Linked DNA regions of Homo sapiens: region 1 is linked to region 2. Evidence: fine-mapped expression QTL. A gene starts in region 2. The other region holds a variant in brackets. All regions are shown on one strand. Distances are from middle to middle.

Evidence for each region. PIP is the estimated chance that this variant, and not a neighbour inherited with it, causes the effect.
Region 1: its variant is fine-mapped to the expression of USP36 in B cells (CEDAR, PIP 0.95).

Annotation. Positions count from the first base shown.
Region 1 is chr17:78,800,229-78,812,729 of GRCh38, reverse strand. It overlaps USP36 (ubiquitin specific peptidase 36), which reads left to right. Exons shown (of 21, transcript NM_001385174.1): 14 at 5,094-5,771; 15 at 6,444-6,574; 16 at 8,752-9,345; 17 at 10,195-10,406. Among named protein-coding and RNA genes, the nearest start is that of CYTH1, 24 kb to the right of the region's middle. The variant C/G (reference allele first, on the strand shown) is at 8,630.
Region 2 is chr17:78,834,802-78,847,302 of GRCh38, reverse strand. USP36 (ubiquitin specific peptidase 36) reads left to right here and starts at 6,489. Exons shown (of 21, transcript NM_001385174.1): 1 at 6,489-6,567; 2 at 8,553-8,716; 3 at 10,931-11,192; 4 at 11,802-12,023. The coding sequence starts at 10,940. It overlaps LOC124904067 (a long non-coding RNA gene), which reads right to left and starts at 6,189. Exons shown (of 2, transcript XR_007065923.1): 1 at 1,904-6,189; 2 at 511-1,443. It also overlaps the pseudogene RPL9P29. RefSeq lists silencers at 6,002-6,101, 6,562-7,081 and enhancers at 6,222-6,411, 8,006-8,520, 8,521-9,035.

The sequences.
Region 1 (12,501 bases), 35 kb after region 2:
CTTTTCTTTTCTTTTTTTTTTTTTTTTTTTTTCGAGACAGAGTCTCGCTCTGTCATCCAGGCTGGGGTGCAGTGGTGCGATCTCCAATCTCGGCTCACTGCAAGCTCTGCCTCCCGGGTTCCCGCCATTCTCCTGCCTCAGCCTCCCTAGTAGCTGGGATTATAGGTGCCCGAACCACGCCCGGCTAATTTTTTTTGTATTTTTAGTAGAGACGGGGTTTCACCGTGTTAGCCAGGATGCTTTCGATCTCCTGACCTCAGGATCTGCCCGCCTCGGCCTCCCAAAGTGCTGGGATTACAGGCATGAGCCACCGCGCCCGGCCAATGTTATTTCTTAAACTGGTCATCAGCTGACATTGGCTATAGAGAAAGAGGAGACATGAATGAGAAAATTCTGACCCAACAAATTAGAATTGTCATTCACAGATCTGTTCTACTCATGAGACCAGCACCACTTACAGGTGTCGTGACAGGTGTGCCAAGCAAACTTTCTGTGTGCACTCCTTTTATTTCCTTTATAATGCCAAGCAAACTTTTTTTTTTGGAGACAGGGTCTCACTCTGTTACCCAGACTGGAGTACAGTGGCACAATCATGGTTCAGGGCAGGCTTGAGCTCCTGGATTCAAGCCACCCTCCTGCCCCAGCATCCCTAGTATTCGGGACTATCAGTGCACTACCACACCCAGCTAATTTTTAAATTTTGTGTAGAGACAGGGTCTCACTATGTTGCCCTGGCTGGTCTTAAGCTCCTCAGCCCAAGCAATTCTCCTGTCTTGGCCTCTCAGAGTGCCAGGATTACAGGCACCAAGCAAACTCTTAACCGTAAGCGTGTAGGAAAAAATATCCTTTTTTTTTTTTCTTTGAGACGGAGTCTCATTCTGTCGCCCAGGCTGGAGTGCAGTGGCGCAACCTTGGCTCGCTGCAACCTCCACCTCCCAGGTTCAAGCGATTCTCCTGCCTCAGCCTCCCGAGTAGCTGGGACTACAGGCGTGTGCCACCATGCATGGCTAATTTTTTTATTTTTAGTGGAGACGGGGTTTCACTTTATTAGCCAGGATGGTCTCTATCTGCTGACCTCCTGATCCACCCGCCTCAGCCTCCCAAAGTGCTGGGATTACAGACGTGAGCCACTGTGCCCGGCCTGTTCTCACATTTAACGGGGAAAATGTGAGTAGTTTGTACCAATGTTAATTTCCTGATTTGGGTAATTCTGCTGTGGTTATGTAAGAGAGTGTCTTTGTTCTTTGGAAATACACATGGACATATTTTGGGGTAAAAGAACATCATGTCTGCAATTTACTCAAATGGATCAGAAATAGAAATATGTGTATATGCATACGTACATAGTCATACATATATACACACGTACATATACATACAGAGAGAGGATGATAAAGGTTATGTGGTTACAGGTTAACCATTAGGAACTACCCTCTAAGTTACCTTTGTGTGTATTTGAAATTTTCTGCTAGAACTGTTAAGAATTCAGTTTCACTAAGTGGATTCATGAGCAGTTTCCTCATTAGAACACAGTGATCATTTGAAGTGGGGTGGACCCTCTTGATGACTGTTTCTTTTTTTTTTTTTTTTTTTTTTTTTGAGACAGAGTCTCGCTCTGTCACTGAGGCTGGAGTGCAGTGGCGCCATCTCAGCTCACTGCAGCCTCTGCCACTATGCAGCCTCCGCCTCTTGGGTTCAAGCGATTCTCCTGCCTCTGCCTCCTGAGTAGCTGTAATTACAGGTGCCCGCCAGCACTCCCGGCTAATTTTTGTAGTTTTAGTAGAGATGGGGTTTCACCATGTTGGCCAGGCTGGTCTGGAACTCCTGACCTCAAGTGATTCGCTCAGCTTGACCTCCCAGAGTCCTGGGATACAGGCATGAGCCACCGTGCCCGGCCTGGATGACTGTTTTTGATGGATCGTCTTCCTCTCCCTTTAGAATGAAGAGTTGAACCCCACACACAGGCAGTCAGGGCCTTTCACAGTCTGCAGGGGTTTTGGTCATTTACGTACATCTGTATTTCTCTTCACATTAAAGAAAATAGAAGCTGAAATTAGAAGCATTAGAATTGAAGTGGCAGTAAAATACATGATATAATTGCAAAGTTGGTGGTCACTGTAGCCCAGACTAGGAAGTTAGGAAGCAGCCTGGGCCTGGGACTGTGACTCATGTCTGTAATTCCAACACTTTGGGAAGCCGATGTGGGAAGATCAGTGGATCCCAGGAGTTCGAGACCAACCTGGGCAAAACCCTGTCTCTACTAAAAATGCAAAAGCTAGCCAGGTTTAATGGCACGTGCCTGTATTCCCAGCTACTCAGGAGGCTGAGGTGGGAGGATCACTTGAGCCAGGGAGATTAAGGCTGGAGTGAGTCATGATCATACCACTCCACACCAGCCTGGGCAACAGAGCAAGACCCTGTCTCAAAACAAATTTAAAAAGTAGCCTGGGCAACATAGATCCCATCAGCACAGAGAATATTCAGTAAGCTGTTGGGGGAGGATCACTTGAACCCGGGAGGTTGAGGCTGTATGCAGTGAGCCATGATCACGCTGGTGAATTCCAGGCAAGGTGACAGAGTGAGACCTTGTCTACAAAAAAAAGAAGAGGGGGGCCGGGCACTTTGGGAGGCTGAGGTGGGTGGACCATTTGAGGTCAGGAGTTTGAGACCAGCTTGCCAATATGGTGAGACCCTGTCTCTACTAAAAATACAAAAGTTAGCTGGGCATGGTGGCGTGCGCCTGTAATCCCAGCTATTCGAGAGGCCGAGGTAGGAGAATCGCTTGAACCCGGGAGGTGGAGGTTGCAGTGAGCTGAGATTGTGCCACTGCACTCCAGCCTGGGTGACAGAGCGGGACTCCATCTCAAAAAAAGGAAGCAGCCTGGGCAACATAGAAAGACCCCCATCTCCAAAACCCCATCTCCAAAAAAAGTGCAAAAATTAGCCAGGTGTGGTGGTGCACGTCTGTTGTCCCAGCTGTTTGGAGGTTGAGGCAGGAGGATCACTTAAACACAAGGCTGCATTGAGCTATCATTGTGCCACTGCGCTCCAGCCTGGACAACAGAATGAGACCCTGTCTCAAAAAACCCCAGAAAAACAAAGGAAGCCCCACTTGCCACAGGAACTCCATGGGCAGAGTGATGCCCGAGGGTGGAGATTGGCTCAAGGAGAGTCCCTGTGTCAGGCACACCTGCAGGGGCGCTTCACTGACCATGAGCATTTTCATTACAAACGTGATTTTCCAAATACACTGCAAGCAGACGAGCCGTTTTACTCTAAATGACATGGTGCAAGTTCTAGTGTGTATGGAAATGTTCAGCCAGTGAAACGGCTTTGCGGTGCAGTGGAAAGATGAATTCCTTTTAGAAAACAGTATTAACAAAGAATAGAATGTAGGGAACAAAACAAAACTTGGAAGAAAATAGAGGTAAATTCTTAACCTCTGGGAAGGGAAGAAGACTTTGTATGCTTAAAGTTGAAGGATAAAATGTAGAAGAATTATGAATTGACTAAGATTTACATTTTTGTACATAATTTACTACAAACAAATGAAGCAATAAAACCTTGTAAAATATTGTCAACAAAAGGTTAACATTTGTAAACAAAAGATCTCATTCAAATGAAGATCACTTTAGTGCATGTGCAGAGAATATGAATGTTAAAGTGGTAATAGCCCAAACGAGTGTCAAATTAGCAAATGTTTTGAAAAATAGATGTGGCTGGAGTATAGTAAAAGCAGTTTGGCATTTTGCATCAGATTTCATGAAAATGAAATCTGTAATTTCATTTCCAGAAAATTAGCCTTGTAATTCCATTTCCAGAAAATTAGCATGGAGTACTAAGTACAGGAAAAGCTCAACAAATATTTTTTAAGCACCGACTCTATACCAGACCCTTGAGTTGCTGGTGAGGGCTGCAGTGGGAACGAGAGAGATAACGGGTACAGCCTCTTGGTCAAGCAGGGGAAGGCTGACATTCAGCATCTAAATACAGAATAATAAGTTATTTCTATGCAGTTGTAATAAGTGCTCTGAAGGGTAAAGGATACACACACATATACTGTACAGTATTTTTAATTTCAACAGTTGGAGACAATATAGCTTATATAAATTAACCATACAGTTAATGTGTATCAGTAGTACATAGTATATATAGTAAAATGTCAAAGACAGGCCGACAGGCAGGGTGCAGTTGCTCAGGCCTGTAATCCCAGCACTTTGAGAGGCCAGGGTGGGAGGATTGCTTGAGCTCAGGAATTCAAGGCTAGCCGGGGCAACATAGCAAGATCCCCATCTCTACAAAATAGTAATAATTATTCGGGTGTGGTGGTCTACTCCTATAGTCCTAGCCAGTTGGGCAGCTGAAGTGGGAGGATCTCTTGAGCCCAGAAGGTTGAGGCTGCAGTGAGTTATGATGACATCATCATGCCACTGCACTCCAGCCTGGGCAACAGAGCAAGGCTCTGTCTTAAAGATATTTATTGAGAGTTATCGCCCATAAAAATGCTTGAGATAATAGCTTTAAGATAAAACTGGGATGCAACTCTTCAGGCCAGAACCATTTGGAAGAAAAGATTGAAAAAAGAAAGCACTAGAATGTTAATGCATGGTTATGTTTAGGTGATGGAACTTTGCTAAATTTCTTCCTTTATACTTTTTTCTCTTCCCAAATCTTGATGAAAATGTACTGGTTTTATAGTAAAGGTGGCCATAAAGATATGTATTCAGGCCAGGTGCTATGGCTCACACCTGTAATCCCAACACTTCTGGAGGCTGAGGCAGGTGGACTGCTCGAGGCCAGAAGTTTGAGACCAGCCTGGCCAACATGGTGAAACCCCATCTCTGTCAAAAATACAGAAATTAGCCAGGTGTGGTGGTACACGGCTGTGGTCCCTGTTCTTGGGATGTCACAGAACACCAGAATTGTTCAGAGAAGCCACAGTGTCTTTACCAAGAGTCCAGATAAATAATTTATCTTGAGCATGCTAATCAGAGGCCATGCCTGCTACTAAGATTCACTGTGGCCTTAAGAAGATGTGGCCCAGCTGAGACTTCTCGCTTCCTCAGTTGTGTTTTCTGCTTTGGTCTCCTTAGCGACAAGACTCTGGGACGATGAAGAAGCCGCACACCACTGAAGAGATTGGTGTGCCCATATCCAGGAATGGCTCCACCCTGGGCCTGAAGTCCCAGAACGGCTGCATTCCTCCAAAGCTGCCCTCGGGGTCCCCTTCCCCCAAACTCTCCCAGACACCCACACACATGCCAACCATCCTAGACGACCCTGGAAAGAAGGTGAAGAAGCCAGCTCCTCCACAGCACTTTTCCCCCAGAACTGCTCAGGGGCTGCCTGGGACCAGCAACTCGAATAGCAGCAGATCTGGGAGCCAAAGGCAGGGCTCCTGGGACAGCAGGGATGTTGTCCTCTCTACCTCACCTAAGCTCCTGGCTACAGCCACTGCCAACGGGCATGGGCTGAAGGGGAACGACGAGAGCGCTGGCCTCGACAGGAGGGGCTCCAGCAGCTCCAGCCCAGAGCACTCGGCCAGCAGCGACTCCACCAAGGCCCCCCAGACCCCCAGGAGTGGAGCGGCCCATCTCTGCGATTCTCAGGAAACGAACTGTTCCACCGCTGGCCACTCCAAAACGCCGCCAAGTGGAGCAGATTCTAAGACGGTGAAGCTGAAGTCCCCTGTCCTGAGCAACACCACCACTGAGCCTGCAAGCACCATGTCTCCTCCACCAGCCAAAAAACTGGCCCTTTCTGCCAAGAAGGTGGGTGTGTGGGGGTCTCGCCGCTGCTGTGTATCAGGAGAGCTCCAAGAGTTGCTTGGTTGTGGTTTGAAGGGAGTGAGAACATTGTCCGGGGGCTTTGGCCTCCCTCATGTTAGAGGAACAAAGTGTCTTTTAGTCGTTCCCAGCCATTTGCAATTAAAGAACGGCTATCTTGGGGTGAAGGCAGTATGGGGTGTTGAGAGAGCCCTGATCTGGTGATGCTCATGTGACTCATGGAGGTTTGGGCAAGGTAGCAGTTCCCTGTTTTCACAGTAGGTGGAAGATCCTGACTGAACCCGAGGGAGGGTGGGCCCCACCAGCACGTGTCCCTAGCAGGGGTGGGGCGGGCAGGAAGCGCAGAGCCCCAGTGGGGTGCCCGGCACCTCTGCAGCAGGAAGCTTGGGCAGCCACGGCACGTGGATGTGATTGTTGTGCTGAGATTTTTGTTTAAATTTTCTTCCTTTTTTTTGTTTCTAACCAAAAATACTTTTCTGGTTCTTCTTCTACCATTCCCCTGCCCCTCACCTCCCCTTTTTGTCTTCTTCTGTCTCCTCATCTTTTTTTCTGGGCTCTTTTGTTTTTATTTTCATTTTTTGTTACTTTTGTTTTCCCTCTTCACTCACGGAAACCTTTTTTAGACCACCAAGTTTTTATTTATGTCGATAACTGCAGGCCAGCACCCTGTGGAGGGCGACCGGCAATGACCTCCGTCCACCTCCCCCCTCACCATCCTCCGACCTCACCCACCCCATGAAAACCTCTCACCCCGTCGTTGCCTCCACTTGGCCCGTCCATAGAGCCAGGTAAGCTTTGGGCCGGGATCTTCTGGGTGCCAACTGGTTCTCCCTGTGGTTGCGTGTGCTTGGCTGGTGAGGAGTTGGACGAATCGCCAACCTCACAGGACAGACAAAGCATTGGGGCAGCCAGGAGGTACAGGGGGGCGTCACTGACCAAGATCCCCCTCTTCTGTGTTCCCCTGTGGTAAAGGAGCTTTGGGTGGTGAAGGCAGTTCGGCCTCTGCAGTCCTGATGTCTTAGTTCTGTCTTTGTTGGTGGTCTGTCTGCGACATCCTTGTGGTGATGTGGTGTGCTGGGGACTGACCTGTCCTGTATCCCTACCAGCCCCATGACAGTACTTCCCAGTCGAAGAGAAAGGCGAAGTGAGGCCTTGGCGAGAGGCTTGAGTGAGCTCGGAGTCCCGAGCGTTTTTTGTGGGACGTCTTGCCTGCTAGCGTCATGCAGGTTAAGAACTGTCTCAGGGCTCTCGGGTTCCTCTGCAGACACCTGCCAGAGATGCAGCCCCTTCCCTGTGCATGTGGGCCCTGGTCCGCAGGGGCTGCCTGCGTCTCTTAGGTGCCTCGAGTGGCAGGAAGTTGAGAGTAACTGGTAAATGGCTGTCTGGAAGCCGCTGGGAGTGGGGACGGAAGCAGTGAAAGATGGGGTGAGTCATGAGGCGGCCTGCGGGGACTGTACTGGTGGCCTCGGCGCTGGGTTCTAGTTCTAGAATCTCCAGTGCTACATGAGGGCGAGGTATGACTGTGCGTCGCCCACAGCCTCTGCCTTACTCTCCTCTCACATATACACACACAAGCACACCTCTGCCCTATACCTAGCATAAGATTTGTGTACGTGGGAGGGCCTTAAGTGTTTGGGTGTTTTTCGTTTCTTGCCTTATAAGCTTTTTTGGAAAAGATTCCAGAAGACACTTAGAGTAATCAAACATCGTGCAGCTGGCATGGCCCTTATAGTTTGTTTAGATGATGACGGGGGTCCTGTTTTCTGCAGGAACCCTGGGAGGTGGGCTTTGTGGTCCCAGCTCATTGACAAATGAGAACATGGTGGTTCAGAGTGGGAAGTTAATTTTCCTAGAGACACATAGCTGGCAAGAGGGAGCCTCACTGGGTTCGGCACTAGATCCTGTCCCGGACACGCCTTGCTCATGATTCTGCTCTACGCATCTGTGTCCCGGTTTCAGCGTCCTAATGACGGTAATGTGGAGGTGTCATTAGGCCAGCTCAACACTTGCTTTCCTTATGAGGCTCATTTCCTGCCCGGGAACACCCTGAGACTTTCGGAGGTTGGAAAATAAATCCTCACGGGATCTTTTTTTTCCTTACCATTTATTGTTTCGTGAAGGTTTCCTCCCTTAACACATTTGTATTAAAGATGTTTTTACATTAGAGCTCGCAAAAATACTTGAATTGCTTGGTGACAAGAAACTAAGGCATGGAACAATTCTTATTAACTTTGCCTTTTAAAAAAAAAAAAATTTTTTTTTTGACTTTTAAAATCACGTGTTGGCTTGCTTTTTTTTTTTTTTTTTTTTTTTTTTTTAAATCTCAGGGATCAGTTATTTTAAGTTCCAGGGTACATGTGCAGGATGTAAAGGTTTGTTACAGAGGTGCCATGGTGGTTTGCTGCACCTATCAACCCACCACCTAGGTAACTTTGTTTTTTTTTTTTTGTTTTTGTTTTTGTTTTTTTGGTTTTTTTTTTTTTTGAGACGGAGTCTTGCTTTGTCGCCCAGGCTGGAGTGCAGTGGCGCGATTCGGCTCACTGCAACCTCCACCTCCCAGGTTCAAGCGATTCTCCTGCCTCAGTCTCCTGACTAGCTGAGATTACAGGCGTGTGCCACCACGCCCGGCTAATTTTGTATTTTTAGTAGAGATGGGGTTTCACCATGTTGGCTAGGCTGGTCTCAAACTTCTGACCTCAGGTGATCCAGCCACCTTGGCTTCCCAAAGTGCTGGAATTATAGGCATGAGCCACTGTACCTGGCCAACTTTGCATTTAAATAGATGTTGAATTAATTGTTAGCTTTCTTTCAAACATACATGTAACTTAATGTGTATCTGAAAA[C/G]TACAGGGTAAAAGCCTTTTCAGATTTTTAGGTGAAAGGGAGGGGAGTGAGGGTAGACAGAAGGAACAGCTCTGCTGGGTCTTTCAGAACATCCTCTCCCTGTTTCCTGGCTGTCCCCACAGGGCTGTGTCACCTGCTCCCCAATCATCCAGCCGCCTGCAACCCCCCTTCAGCCCCCACCCCACATTGCTGTCCAGTACCCCCAAGCCCCCAGGGACGTCAGAACCACGGAGCTGCTCCTCCATCTCGACGGCGCTGCCTCAGGTCAACGAGGACCTTGTGTCTCTTCCACACCAGTTGCCAGAGGCCAGTGAGCCCCCCCAGAGCCCCTCTGAGAAGAGGAAAAAGACCTTTGTGGGAGAGCCGCAGAGGCTGGGCTCAGAGACGCGCCTCCCACAGCACATCAGGGAGGCCACTGCGGCTCCCCACGGGAAGAGGAAGAGGAAGAAGAAGAAGCGCCCGGAGGACACAGCTGCCAGCGCCCTGCAGGAGGGGCAGACACAGAGACAGCCTGGGAGCCCCATGTACAGGAGGGAGGGCCAGGCACAGCTGCCCGCTGTCAGACGGCAGGAAGATGGCACACAGCCACAGGTGAATGGCCAGCAGGTGGGATGTGTTACGGACGGCCACCACGCGAGCAGCAGGAAGCGGAGGAGGAAAGGAGCAGAAGGTCTTGGTGAAGAAGGCGGCCTGCACCAGGACCCACTTCGGCACAGGTAAGGGCAGGAGCAAAGTGGCATCTGTCTACCTCTGACGAGAAACAAAGCAAAACCACAGAATCTACCCCCAAGTAGGTATGGTCTGGAAACGTAGTCTGCTTGCGTGGTTTTCTAAAATGTGGATTTGTGATCAGATGTCTCCTCTGGCTGGGTGTGGTGGCTCACACCTGTAATCCTAGCACTTTGGGAGGCTGAGGCGGGTGGATCACTTCAACCCAGGAGTTTGAGACCAGCCTAGGCAATATGGAAAAGCCCTTTCTCTACCAAAAACAAAAATTGGTTGGGCATGGTGGCATGCACCTATAGTCCCAGCTACTCAGGAGGCTGAGGTGGGAGGATGGTTTGAGCCCAGGAGGTGGAGGTTGCAGTGAGCTGAGATCGCGTCACTGCACTACAGCCTGGGTGACAGCTAAACCCTGTCTAAAAAAAAAGAAAAAAGAAAAAATATCTCCTCTGATAAATACCAGTGGATTGATCCTTGAAGCGACAGTGGTGTGGACAGTAGTGTCCATCATTGTATGTGCAGGGCCGTTCAAGGATGCTGGATCAGGTGTCCCGGGCCAGGCCAGGATCTGCCGTTTCATCAGGTCACAGTAGCCTGCACATTGGCGTCAACAGGCTTGGCTCAGTTAGGATGGGAAACGCGACTGGTTTTCCCTCTACTGTCTCCGTGGCTGCGTGTGGAGCGTCCGCTAATGCGTGTGGGGGGAAGAATGTTGCAGGGACCTGCGTGCACTGGGTCACAGCTGGGGTGGCACCTTCTCCATGTTGCAGGCGGGTGTCTGTGCGCTCCTGCTCCCCTTCCAATTTGCTCAGAGCTGACTGCTGCCTCTCACTTCCAAGCAGCTGCTCTCCCATGGGTGATGGTGATCCAGAGGCCATGGAAGAGTCTCCAAGGAAAAAGAAAAAGAAAAAAAGAAAGCAGGAGACACAGCGGGCAGTAGAAGAGGATGGGCATCTCAAATGCCCAAGGAGTGCCAAGCCCCAAGATGCTGTTGTCCCCGAGTCCAGCAGCTGCGCACCATCCGCGAATGGCTGGTGTCCTGGGGACCGCATGGGTATGCACCGGGCGAGGGGGTGGGAACCGCATGGGTGTGCACCGGGCGAGGGGTTGGGGGACCGCATGGGTGTGCACCGGGCGAGGGGTTGGGGGACCGCATGGGCGTGCACTGGGCGAGGGGTTGGACCGCGTGGGTGTGCACCGGGCGAGGGGGTGGGGGACCGCGTGGGTGTGCACCAGGCGAGGGGTTGGGGGACCGCGTGGGTGTGCACCGGGCAAGGGGGTGGGGGACCGCGTGGGTGTGCACCGGGTGAGGGGGTATTGGGGAGTGCACAGGCTGAGAGCAGCGTCTACTGCATCTGAGCTTGGGAGGGTCTGGGAGAAGATGTGGAGGGCCCTGGGACCCTACCAACCTTCACCCCCCACCCCCGAGTCTGCTCCCTTGGGTGATGGGGTTGAAGCTTCCTCATGTGTCACAGCATTTGACTGAAACAGCCCCATGAGAGAGGTTACAGTGCACATGAACTTTAAAACATTCTGTGAATGCCAGTGGGTCTTCCGATTCAAAGCTGTTCTGTCTACAGCTTCTCACGGAATGACTCCCTGAACTCCCAGCCTGAGTTTTTTTCTGTGATGGTTGAATTTAGAAGAGTTGGGTTCAAAAGTGAATCCTCCTCTCCCTCTATGTAGCTGGGCCATTCAGAACATAGCACGGTTTGCTTGCTGTTGGGGACCTGTGTGCTGTGGCTGTCCTTGGGCACCACCCCTCAATCGGAGGGTGTTTTGTTTTCTTTAGGGCTGGCTGGGGCATGCCTTGGCAGGCACCCGCCACAGAACACATTTGTTAAGTGAAGGGGAGAGAAAGTCCTGGCTGCTTGGTATAGGGGGCCGAGCTTGAGTGAGGCCTCCTCTGCAGTCTGGAAGGTCTGATTATGGCAGTGCATCTGGGGGTCAGCAGGACCTTAGAGACTGATTTGTATTTATCCAACTCTTAAGAAAGGAATTTATCGTTAAAAATGAAATGGTATGAAATAAATAGCAAAACGTGGGTGCTAGCTAGTGCCGACTGAGTTTGCTGGCCAGCATGCTCTCAGAAGTACTGCCCTGGCCGGGGGTGGTGGCTCACGCCTGTAATCCCAACACTTTGGGAGGCCGAGGCGGGCGGATCACAAGGTTAGGAGATCGAGACCATCCTGGCTGACACGGTGAAACCCCGTCTCTACTAAAAATACAAAAAGTTAGCCAGGCATGGTGGCGGGCGCCTCTAGTCCCAGCTACTCGGGAGGCTGAGGCAGGAGAATGGTGTGAACCCAGGAGGCGGAGCTTGCAGTGAGCCGAGATTGCGCCACTGCACTCCAGCCTGGGTGACAGAGTGAGACTCCGTCTCAAAAAAAAAAAAAAAAAAAAAAAAATACTGCCCTAACATGGCACCAGAGCTGTGCTCCGTGCCACCCTCGGAGCGAAGTGGAGTTGGCTTGTTAGTGCAAGGGACATCACTTGAGCACTTGCGGTGCGCCAGGGTCCATGCCAGGTGCTGGTTGTGTCTACTGAAGTGCGCCCTGGGCCCTCGGGGCTCCCTGGCAGAGCCAGAACCACACAGTAAGGGCTCATGCTCAGCAAGGAGGCGCTGGGGGCCGCATGGGCTCTTGCAGTCCTGTGCACCTGAGGAGAGTGGCTAAATGGGCAGGGCACCAGACCCAAGGGCAGGAGGCGCAGCACGTTGGGAGCAGGCAGGCTGCTCTGCATGGCCGGGTCCCTGGGCTGTGTGGATGAGATGGGAACCATGGAAGCCACTGTGTGGGGGCAGGGGACACTTAGCCTGGAGCTCACTGAGGAATTGGAGGCAGGGAGAAATGAGGTCAGATTTGTGTGAAGGGAGGTGAGTATATTCCAGGGGCTATGTGGCTAGCTGGGCAGAGGACGAGTTCAGAAAGGGTTTCTAGAACCCGATGAGGGTGGTGAGTGCTGTCCTGGTCCCGAGGTGCTGGGTGGACCTGTGCGGTGTTGCTGATGGGGACCAGGTTCCCCCTGGACAGGGCTTAGGAGGTCGGGCCCCTGATGGCAGCAGCCAAGCTTGGCCGTTCCCTCCACCCCTGTGGCCATCCAGGTGTCAGGCTGGTCCTGGGGCATGGGCCTCTCCCGTAGGTGAGGTG
Region 2 (12,501 bases):
TGTATATATACTGGGTATATACTATGTATATATACTATGTGTATATACTATGTGTATATACTATGTATATAGTGTAGACATATATACTATGTCTATACTGTATACATAGTGTATATATACAGTTTATATAGTATGTATAGATAGTATGTATAGTAGTCCTATGTTTCGCTTTTGGAGGAAGCACTGTCCTGTTTTCTGCAGTGACTGCACCATTTTACATGCCTACCAGCAGTGTCTGAGGGTTGGTCCGCTCTAAAGTTATTCTTCCTACACCTCCCAAAGTGGAATTCCAAAACCGCCTTGTTAGACCAGCCTGACAATTTACAATATTCATGGAAAGACACGTCCTAGTATGTTCAAAATTCCAAGGTTAAGATGCCTGGAAGTTATATTAAAAAAGTAAAACTGCTGTCTTTGCCGCATCTACTGTGAGAATGAAGACCGTTCCCAGCAACCAACCCATGGATATTCCAGAAAAGGTCAACATTACTCTAAAGGAACACACAGTTATTGGGAAGGGCCTGAGAGGAACCCTGAGGAAGGACTTTATTTATTTATTTATTTATTTATTTATTTTATTTTTTTGAGACAGGGTCTTGCCCTGTCGCCCAGGCTGGAGTGCAGTGGTGCGATCTTGGCTCACTGCAACCTCCGCCTCCTGGGTTCAAGCAATTTTCCTGCCTCAGCCTCCCTAGTAGCTGAGACTACAGGCATGTGCCACCACGCCTGGCTAATTTTTGTATTTTTAGTAGAGACATGGTTTCACCATGTTGGCCAGGCTGCTCTCAAACTCCTGGCCTCAAGTGATCCGCCTGCCTCTGCCTCCCAAAGTGTTGGGATTACAGGTGTGAGCCACTGCACACAGCCTTGAGGAGAGACTTCAATCACATCAATGTAGAACTCAGTCTCCTTGGAAAGGAAAAGAGGCTCCGGGTTGACAAACGGTGGGGAAACTGAAGGGAGCCGGCTGCCGTTGGGACTGTTCATAGTCGTGTACGGAGCATGGTCAAAGGGGTTGCCCTGGGTTCCATTACAAGATGACCTCTGTGGGTGCTCACTTCCCCAGAAACGTCGTTATCCAGGAGAACGGGACTCTCGTTGAAATCTGAAACATCTTGGGTGGAAAATCCATCTGCAGGGTTCGGATGAGGCCAGGTGTTGCTTATTCAGTATCTCAAGCCCAGAATGTCGAATTAATCTTTGAAGGAAGCGACATTGAGCTTGTTTCAGTCTTGTTCAAATTCAGCTGCTCTGATTCAGCAAGCAGCAATAGTTAAAAACAAGGATATCAGAAAATGTTGGGGTGCTGTCTACGTCTCCTAAAAAGGAACAGTTCCGCAGGCTGCTGAGGAGGTTCTAAGAGTTGTCCAGCTACAGAAACACGATGTTGGATGACTCCTCAGACCTAAGTATCTGTGATATTTAGATGATTCAATAAAAGACCTATAGATTTGGAAAAAAATAAAAACAAGTCACATTGAAAATCACAAAGCATAAGCCATCTACACCTTTTTTTTTTTTTTTTTTTTTGAGACAGAGTCTCGCTCTGTCACCAAGGCTGGAGTGCGGTGGCGCGATCTCGGCTCACTGCAACCTCCACCTCCCGGGTTCAAGCAATTCTCCTGCCTCAGCCTCCTGAGTAGATGGGACTACAGGCAAATGCCACCATGCCCAGCTAATTTTTGTATTCTAGTTGAGACAGGGTTTCACCATGTTAGTCAGGCTGGTCTTGAACTTCTGACCTCAAGGTGATCCGCCCGACTCGACCTCCCAAAGTGCTGGGATTAGAGGCATGAGCTACTGCACCCAGCCCATCTACACCTTTGCAGGGGATTCTGGAGAATTCCGTGTAGCAGGATGACCTATGGAGACAAACTTGCCTCTCACCCGAGGCACCACTCACCTGTCTGTAGCCTGCGTGCTTCATCTATAGTTGGGACCTCTTGCCTGTGGGGCACCTGGTCCACCCTTCCAGCCTCAGCCATCCCAATGGCCTCCTTTTCTTTCCTTTTTTTTTTTTTTTTTTTTTTTGAGATGGAGTCTCGCTCTGTCTCGCAGGCTGGAGTGCAGTGGCGCGATCTCAGCTCATTGCAACCTCCACGTGCCAGGTTCAGTGATTCTCCTCTTTATTTTCTTGAAGGTGCCAAGCTCGCTCCTGTCTCGGGCATTTTGTTCGTGCTGTTCTCTCATTCCAGAACCTCCTTCCCTTGCTCCTCTTACAGCCGGTCTCTCATCTTCCCACTTTCAACGGAGGTAGCACATCCTCGCAAGAGTTTCCTCCGATGCCCCAGGCCAAGGTATTCTCCATCACCTCATCCTGCTCTTGGCCTGGTCACCGTTGGTCATAAAAATTATGCAAAAGTGTTCATTTGTTCATGACCTGCGTGTTCTTAAGTCCTTTGTGGGGAGAGTCCAGGGTTGATTCACTCACCACCATGTGGAACAGAGTAAATAAGAAATATTCGCTGGATGAATCAATTTGTTTGGTGCCACAGGGCCACAGGAAGGGGTGCCAGCCCCAAGAGAACAGTGGAGGCTTTGTGCGGCAGAGGCCTGGATCCTTCTTCCCCAGGAGTTGGAGACTGGAGGCCTTTAGCAAGTGCTTCCTAGGGAAACTTCAGGTCCCTCTGGGCAGAAAGGAGCCCAGAAGGGTGGATATTTGGGGGAGATGGCTGGCACCAGAGATGGCTGGCACCAAGGGGGCTGGGACTGCAGGAGGCTGTGTGGGGCGGGGACTTGGAGGGAAGTGACAGAGCAAGGGAAAGGGCTGGCGAGTGTGAGCGTGAGAGTCGGTGGATTTTGAAAGTGTGTGAGTGTGGTGGGGTGTGTGAGTGTGTGTGAGGATGTGAGTAAGAGAGAATGTATGTGTGTGTGTGTTGGGGGAATCCCTGGGACCGAACTTATTGTAGAAAGGGTGGCATCCTGCCCAGCTGCATTTAGGGGAAGGACCTCTGCCAGCCTAGGGCACATCTGGCTGAGGTGACCCTTGAGCTTGAGAGCAGTACCAGGGGAGCGATGCAGGGAATCCGCAGACTAGAAGACCAGGGTGCACCTCCCCAAACAGCCGGCTGCCTGGAGTGGCTCTTCGGAGCCTGGGTAAACCCCTGGAGATCTGTCCTATTCAAAGGAGGCAGAGAGCCCCCAAAATGATTGAGGTGGGGAATTCCAACCACCGATGGGGTAGAGGTATTAAACTAATTTAGTTTACCAAAATGAAACAAGAGAAAAGGCCGGGAGGTGGGGTGCGGTGGCTCACGCCTGTAATCCTTGCACTCTGGGAGGCTGAGGGGGGCAGATCACCTGAGGCCAAGAGTTCAAGACCAAACATGGCGAAACCCCATCTCTACTAAAAATACAAAAATCAGCTGGGTGTGGTGGCGTGCACCTGTGATCCCAGCTACTCTGGAGGCCGAGACACGATAATCGCTTGAACCCGGGAGGCGGAGCTTGCAGTGAGCTGAGATTGCACCACTGCACTCCAGCCTGGGCGACAGAGTGAGACTCCACCTCAGAAAAATAAAAAACAAGAGAAAACTACAAAATACGTATCCTGACTTGTGCCAAAGCATCTCGGAGCAGCTGCTGCTCTTGCTAGTGCCCTCTGTGGTCCCAACTCCTGGCCGCCACCTGCCCGGGCCTGGGCTGCCGCCTTGCACAGCCATTCTCCTGGCACGGTCAGATGTCTGAGAGTCAACACCATTTAGGAAGGATGACTTTCTCCACCCCTTCTGAGACTAGAAACAAAATGGAAGGGTCATAAGAATGGTGCCAAGCAGCCAAAAGAGCCACTTCCTTTGGGTACCAACAGGTGGCGTGGCGTCATGGCTCCTGTCTTCCCCAAGTGCCTGTGCCCAGCAGCTGCCTCTGCCTGTGCATCTTCTAGGGCGATGCTAATGGCAGATTTCCTGAGAGCCCTGTCCCATCTGCATGGATGGGAAGGACGACATACATTGCTGTTCTTCCTAAGGAAAGTGGCATCCCTCCCAAACCTGGGAACTCGGGTCTCCATGGACCGCACAGACACCTGAGAAAAGGTTTTGCATCAGAGGCTGATGGCAGAGGCTCTACCAGTCCAGCAAGTCACCTGACTGATGTGAAGGGTTCCCCTAGAGCAGGAGGGACATCTGGGCTGAAAACCCTCATGTGAAAAGGCCTGGGCCCCCCAGGCACTCGGCACCTATGAAATGCAACCCCAGCGGGTGGAAAAGCAAGTCCACGATTGCACTCCCCTGCCAGGCTAGGGAGAAATTCTGCTATTGCAGTTCAGGGGCAACACACCCACCCCCGCAGACCTGAGGGTGGCTGCAACTGTCAGCCACACCCAAAGAATGCAGGGCAGGCTCACTGTGGATAAATGTTTATGAAAGAACCACATGGAAATTGAAATATTTGAGATGAGACTGAATGATCTCTAAATCCTAAAAGAGAAAACTAGAGAAACATTAAAGATGAAAGAATAAAATATTCTGTTATAGAAAGCTGTAACCAAAACGGATCACATTAGAACTTACCTCAAGAAAAAGGTGCATTAACAGAATAGTTGTATTGTCACCCAAAAATTACCTGGTCCGCTCCCTGCCTGGGAGGTCAAGGTAAGATGGACTCAATTCCTCTCCTGGTTTCACAGCCTGTAGAAGATGGCTGAAGATTTGGGCTAATTTCGTGAGAGACCTACGTTGCATTTCTTTCTTTTTTTTTTTTTTAGACCAAGTATTGCTCTGTTGTCCAGGCTGCTGGAGTGCAATGGCACGATCTCAGCTCATTGCAACCTCCACCTCCCAGGTACAAGCGATTCTCCTGTCTCAGCCTCCCTAGTAGCTCGGATTACAGGCGTGCGCCACCATACCCAGCTAATTTTTGTATTTTTAGTAGAGACAGGTTTTCACCATGTTGGCCAGGCTGGTCTGGAATTCCTGACCTCAAGCGATCTGCCTGCCTCGGCCTCCCAAAGTGCTAGGATTACAGGCGTGAGCCACTGTGCCCTGCCTTTTTTTCTTTTCTTTTCTTTTCTTTTGAGACGGAGTCTCGCTCTGTCGCCCAGGCTGGAGTGCAGTGGCGACATCTCAGCTCGCTGCAACCTCCGCCTCCTAGGTTCAAGGGATTCTCGTGCCTCAGCCTCCTGAGTAGCTGGGATTACAGGCGCCCACCACCACACCCAGCTAATTTTTGTATGTTTAGTAGAGACGGGGTTTCACCATGTTGGCCATGCTGGTCTCGAACTCCTGACCTCAGGTGATCCGCCCACCTTGGCCTCCAAGTGTTGGGATTACAAGGGTGAGCCACCGCGCCCAGCCCAAGGATTCTTACAGATAGGGCATAGTCTCAGCATCAGACTAATATGGTTATCTTGTTTGCTTTTTTCAAAAAACACCAGCGCCCAGGTAATAAATACAAGGTGAATTTTGTTCCAAGTACATCTAGCCTCTCTCCCCATCTCCAGTCCCTGCTTTAGGATCCGTGGGGAGGGCATGGAAATTCGTTTTGGGTTGTTTACCTGTGACTTCACCCTACTCATCATTCCTACTTACATCAAAAAAGACACAGCAGATACGACTGTGTTTGCAAAGTTCTGCCTTTTGGATAAAGTAGTTTATGCCCATCCTGTGCTTCTCTGAGTTTCTGAGGTCAGGCCAGGAACCAACACTCTCAACCTGCCCAAGGGAATGGGGAGGAAGCCAGCGAAGTTGCCTCAGATCAAGAGGATTTTTAAAAATACTGCAAAAGAAATACGTGCTCACAAATACTCAGCTAAAACCTTCGCAGAGCTGTCAGAGGACAAAGCTTTTGGAGGGAGTGGGTGGAGCTAGAGATTGCACAGCCGCCACCAGCCTACAAAGGTCAAATCTCACACTCTCAGATCCCTAATTCCGAAGAGCCATTTCCTCGGCAGCCCCAGGCTTTGGCCGATCGCTCCCAGATCCCTCCCTCCCCAAACTGCAGGTGCTCCGCGTGTGGGAGTCACGGATGGCCCCAGAGCCCGGGACGTTAAGGCCGAGCGCCCGCGCCTCCGCTTCTCCACAGCCACCTGACGGCCAGGGGCAGGTGGGGGAGCCCAGCCTTCTCCCTGCCCGGGAGACAGCGCGGGAGGGCTGTTGCAGGGGTGGGCAAAGTCCCTCGAGTCCCCGTTCTGGGGCGGGGGCGCGCGCCACTGTCACACTTCAGGCGTCCGCCACGCCGCCAGGTGTGCTCGGCCGACCCGGAAGTAGCGGCACCTCTAGTGCGCTGCGGAGACGTCACCCTGCCGCGGCACAGGGGCGGGAGCGCCTGTGGCTCTGCGCACTTGCGTCATCACGTAGGCTGGCGGGGTCCCGTGATGGGGAGGTGACGTAGGCGACACGGAAGCGGCGGTGGGCGGGGACAGGGAGTTAGCGGAATCTAGCCCCGCCTCTTAAAGCCTCCCAACCCTTTCGGAGTTAGCGCAGCGCGAACGCTGGGTGCGGCGCCTTTAAGCGTCGCGGTGACACGTGTGTGAGGCGCCGGAGGCCCGGATGGTGCGCGTGCTGGGCCGCGGGCCGAAGGAGTCGCCAGGGCTGCGTAGGCTTGTGGCGCGCCCGCGGAGAGGCCGGGGTAGGCTGGGGTCGGGTCGGGGCGGTGCGCAGGCCTGGGGACGAGACCGGGGCGGGGGGTTCCGCGAGGCCTGGGGCGCGGGAAGGGCTGGCGGGCGCAGCCGGGACGCTCAGGGAGAACGTGGGCGCGGGTCCGCGCAGGGCTTCGGCCGTCCCCGAGGAGGACCCGGGATGCTCCGCCCGCTCGCGAGCTCGCTTCTCCAGAGCCCGGGTATTCCCGAGGAGGGTCCGGGGCCGGGCTGTCCTCGCCGGTCTCCGCCGTCCCCCGGGCTCCGGGCCGGTGATGGGGGTCGCCGGGGCCCGCTGTCTGTGCAGGATTCAGGTCAACTTCGGAGAGGTTGAAGTCGGAATCAGGGCGAGGGCGTCGCGTGCGGCCGCAGAGCTCAGCGGGGCGGGTGCGGCCCCGGGGCGGGCACCTTCCTCGTGGTTGCGGAGGAGGCCATGGAGCCCGGGGCGGGGTGCGGTTCCGATGCTGCTGCTTCTGGCGGGTGGCGTGGGGGTCCTGGGCCTGGGGCTGGAGTGGCGGCCGCCAAACCCAGACACACGAGAGGGGAGACTCCGCGCGCCCCCGTTTACGTAACGCTCGCCACGGAGCCATGCTCGGGGAGAGGTGCTCGGGTCGCTGTGTCCGCGGCCGGGCTCGGGGCAGGCGCTGCGGAGTCGCCCGGGAGGCCCCTGGAGCGCGGCGCTGGGCCCCGGGAGGCCGCTGCTTCCGTGGGCTCCTCTCCCCAGCACGTGGTTGACCCTGCGAGCGTCCGTTGCAGTTCATCCTGGAAAAGTGACTTTAGAAGGAGGAGGGAGCGGGAATGAGCCTAAATGGTGCTGGCTGGGGTTCGCGCAGGTGGAAATGTGGATGAGGCCTGTGCTGTCCTTGGACAAGAGAGAGCATCCTTCCTGAGTTGGGTAGAGTGTGGATGGTGTGTGCGTCGGAGGGATTGCTAGTGATTACAGGAACACTTGTCTCGGGCTCCTACACGTCAGAGAGCGAGCGAGCGTTGTTTAGGTTATTGCTTAATGTTTTAGGTGGAATTGGTGAAGTAGAGATTGACCTGTCCCACTTGAAAAATTGTGTTCAAAATCTCTGCATCTACATTAAGGAGTGGGTTAAGTTCAAAGTTACTTATCTCGAGTGAAACTGGGTTACATCTCCCAAGGTTCGTTTATCCCCTCCCTAAGTGGTTCTCAAGCGTTGGTTGTGCATGACAGAGTTCTCACCTTCCAGGGTAGATGTGAGTCCTAACCGAAAGCAGTGATATTGTGGGGAGTTTTTAATACGACTGGATGTCTTCACTTTGTAGATGGCTTTTATTCTGAGATCATTTCCTTACACATTTTTCGGGAGTTGGTATGCTTTTATTTATGGATGAAGTCATAGGTCTGAGATTTGCTGTAGAATTACCTGGGGATGGGAAGTGACTCAGGATGGGTCAGATGTAGTTACTGAGGCTGAATAAGGGGGGCTCATGTGCTCCCTGTGCGGTTCTCCATCTGTGTGTTTGAATGTTTTCACTGTAAACTGTTTTTACGAACCTTAATTTTATGTAATCATAGTGATCGTAGATGGTAATGAAAGAGAAAATCCACACTTAGCAAAGCAAAATTTTGGCAACTCCTATTACTCCCTGAGGTTTGTTGTTGTTGTTATTGAAGTTTTACTGGTTCATTAAATCCAAAACTTGGGGATTTATTACCTCTTACTCTTTGGAAATAAGATTAGACTGGAGCTGACTGGCAGGTGTTGGGGAGGTTTTCCTTCTCTGGGCTTGTCTGGGGTCAAGGTTAAGGTGTTCATATCGTGTGCATTACAACAACTGGTGATGAGGTAGTACGGTCCACCCGCCTCATCCTGAGTGCACGCGTGGATGCTCCTTGGACGGCTTTTTCGTGGTAGAGGGTTCCCGGTGCGCGCCGCATCCCTGGGAAGTAGCTGAAGAGAAGGCACAGGAAGAGTCGCCTCCACTGATGGTCTCCCTGTCCCTCCCACAGGCTCTGACGCCCGCTCTGCGGCTTCGGTGTTTGAACAGGCCACAGTCCAGGAGCGCTTACATTCAGGAGCTCCGCGTAGCACCTGCCCAACCAAACTCAGCCCTCCGTTAAGATCCTGGTTCCATGCCGCAGTAGGACAGCAGGCCCAAGTCTGCACATCCCAGGTGAGTCTGCGAGGCTTCTGTGTATTTTTTGATTCCGTTGAATTGTCTGCATGTGACGCAGCAGTGATTGTTCAGTTGGTGAGAAGTCTTTGATAATTCTCATGAGAAAAGGCTCTTTTATTTTCTCAAATCAGACAACTTATAATGCTTTTTTTTAAATAAGCTTCTGAAATTTCTTTACAGAAGTTTTTTGTTTTTTGTTTTTTTTTTTTTTTGAGACCAAGTCTTGCTCTGTTGCCCAGGCTGGAGTGCAGTGGCGCGATCTCGGCTCACTCCAACCTCTGCCTCCCGTGTTCAAGCAATTCTCTGCCTCAGCCTCCTGCGTAGCTGGGATTACAGGCGCCTGCCACCATGCCTGGCTAGTTTTTTTGTATTTTTAGTAGAGAAACATCTTCGCCAGGCTGGTCTTGAATTCCTGACCTCCTGATCCACCCGTCTCGGCCTCCCAAGTGCTGGGATTACAGGCGTGAGCCACGATTTTTTTTGTTTTAAAGATGGGGTCTCACGATGTTGCCCAGGCTGGACTGCACTGGCTATTCACAGGCGTAATCATAGCTCACTGCAGCCTCAGGCTCCTGCCCTCAAGTTATCCTCCCACCTCAGCCTCCCAAGCATCTGGGACGACAGGCCCAGGCCACTGCACCTGGCTTTTCTTTACAGAAGTTTTTGTAGAAAAAGATACTTGATCCATGTATAGAATTAGATGATCCACAGTGATAAATTTGAATGGCTTAATATGAGGTGCTGGAGGAAGTCCTTACTTTCACTAGAGCAGAATTTTGGGGCACACTTGACTTGTTGATTCTCTGAGGGCAGGCTGGGTACTGAATACCAGAGGAAGTCATCATTTTTCTGATGTGAGTGAGCAATTTAAGGGACATATTTTTGAAATTGTGACTCAGATAGTCTGTGCTGTGTTTGGGAAGGTTAAGTTGAGAGGTGGTGGGTAGGGGAGGGCAAGTGGTGGATACAAAGGTAGCGATTGGAGAGGTGCAGGGGTCTCTTCTTGGTTACAGTTTCCATGCAGCTGCACCAACAGTATCGATCCTCTGTTAGGGACTGTAGTATGTAGCAAGCTCTAAAGCACTTCCCAAGCCTATTATTTTTGTTGCTATTTTACAGTAGAATAGGGGGTTTGGAGAAGTCATAGTAGTTGTCCCTGGGTTTCATAGCTAAGGATGATAGAACCTCCCGGGGCCACCACATTCCAAAGCCTGTGATCTCCCCACTCTCCTGCTTGGCTTTTCTTCTTCTCTTTTGATAAGAGTCCTGGGAAGACATTTGTTTAAGTTTAGGTGTCTAATGGATACTAGTCTCTAGGCCTGCTACTTGCTTTTCTTCTCCTTCCTCACTTTTAAAAAGATAATTTGTACTCCAAGCACTGTGTAATGGAGATTAATACAAGCCACAAATATAATTTAAAATTTTATAGTAGCCACATTAAAAAGAAGCAGGTGAAATTCATTTTCATAATTTATTTAACTCAATATATATAAAATATTACCATTTCAACAGGTAACTGATCTAAAAATTACTGGGATGTTTTACATTCTCTTCTTATACTAGTGAGTATTTCTCTTCAAAATCTGGTGTGCATTTTACACTTATAGCACCTCTCAACCTGGACTAGCCTCATTTCACATGCTCAGTAGCCACGTGTGGCCTGTGGCCTTCATATTGAAGAGTGCAGGTCTGTACAGACATGCATGCTCATCTGACCTGCATGCTAATTCATTTATTGCGTGGGTGTGTGTGTGTGTGTCCGTTTGTGTGTGTGTGTGTGTGTGTCCGTGTGTGTATAACCAGTTTGTATGTGAGAATTAGTGTGCCCCTGTTTTGGAGCAGACATTTGGACCACGTGATGACCTTTGGAAGGAAATGGCACCAAGAATGATGTCCAGAGCCACTTGATGAGTATCTGATGAAGAGATGCACATGGCAGGGGCTGTCTGGCTGCCTCAGGGCCACTGTTGTCTGCTCACCTCTATTTGTAGTGGCATCTTATCTTTTTGTGGGGGAAATGTGAACTAATATGTCCAAGTGATTAGTGCTGGGTCTCCCTGTTTCCTTTGTGCAGCTGATCCAGGGGATCACTGATCCAGGGGAGCTTTTGTGGTGGCTAGCATCCATAATGACCAAAGAGGAGATCTTAAGAGATGTTTTTGTCCCGGGATTTCGTTATCTATGGCTCTATGTTTCTTCTTGTCCCCACAGTGATGCACCATGCCAATAGTGGATAAGTTGAAGGAGGCCCTGAAACCCGGCCGCAAGGACTCGGCTGATGATGGAGAACTGGGGAAGCTTCTTGCCTCCTCTGCCAAGAAGGTCCTTTTACAGAAAATCGAGTTCGAGCCAGCCAGCAAGAGCTTCTCCTACCAGCTGGAGGCCTTAAAGAGCAAATATGTGTTGCTCAACCCCAAAACAGAGGGAGCTAGTCGCCACAAGAGTGGAGATGACCCACCGGCCAGGAGACAGGGTACAGATGTGCAGTGTGCTGGCAGAGAGGCCCTCACTCCGGGGTGACGAAGTGGATGGACTTAAATATTGACTAATTAGTAGGAAAAACAAGAGAATGTGGTCAAAGAGTTATGAATTTTTACATGGGGTCAGTGGATTTCAGTTATAGAAGTAATGATACAGGGTTGGTAGCAAGGAAATCTGTGTGCTTGGTGGATCTGTGTACTTGGTGGGTCCTTGGACTTGCTGTCCCCCTATCCCAAGTATAATACAGTCGAAAGTCAGGCTTGGAACTAAGAAAGAGAAATGGGGTGGGCTGCATGTGGGCACAGTGTGGTGCAGAGTGCCAGGCCTGGCTCCTTCCGCCACTCAGTCTCTGAGCTGTGTCCTCCATCTATAGAGGGGCCCTTGAATTCTTTAGCCAAGCAGCCTAGGAGGTCCGTGGGATGGCTGGGTTTACTCCTGAGCTTTCCAGGAATGTCCTGTAAACCAGAACACCAGTTCTTCTCTGGTGCCATGTTCCGAGTCACTGCATGCTAAGTGTATGCTTCAGGAGTTTCTTTTTGTGGACGACCTGTGTGTGGACTTACGTCTTCCTCTTTTCTTCCCTTGTCCCTTTCTTCCTCAGGCAGTGAGCACACGTATGAGAGCTGTGGTGACGGAGTCCCAGCCCCGCAGAAAGTGCTTTTCCCCACGGAGCGACTGTCTCTGAGGTGGGAGCGGGTCTTCCGCGTGGGCGCAGGACTCCACAACCTTGGCAACACCTGCTTTCTCAATGCCACCATCCAGTGCTTGACCTACACACCACCTCTAGCCAACTACCTGCTCTCCAAGGAGCATGCTCGCAGCTGTGAGTGTGGGTTTGCAGCAGTGGGGTGGCTGTGGGTCCTCTGGATTAGATAAGCCCATGCACTTGTGGCACTGCTGCTCTCAGTCTGGGTCAAATTTAGGAGGGTAGTTCATAATGTATAGTAACTGATGAAACCTAAATTTGAATCATGCCTGCTGCAGAATGGGCCATGAAGGTGAATCGGTCAGGTGGGGCTGTGTTCGCCAAGCTTTTCTGTAAATAATTACCCAGACAGAAACGTTTTCAAAAGATACTTCCAAAATATATATATATATATATATACAAATATTATTTTTTTAGAGACAGTATCTTGCTCTGACACCCAGGCTGGAATGCAGTGGCTCCATCACAACTCGTTGTAGTCTTGAACTCCTGGGCTCACATGATCCTCCCATCTCAGCCTCCCAAAGTGCTGGGATTATAAGTGTGAGCCACCATGCCTAGCCCAATTGTTTTATGCATCTGTTGTTGTATCAGC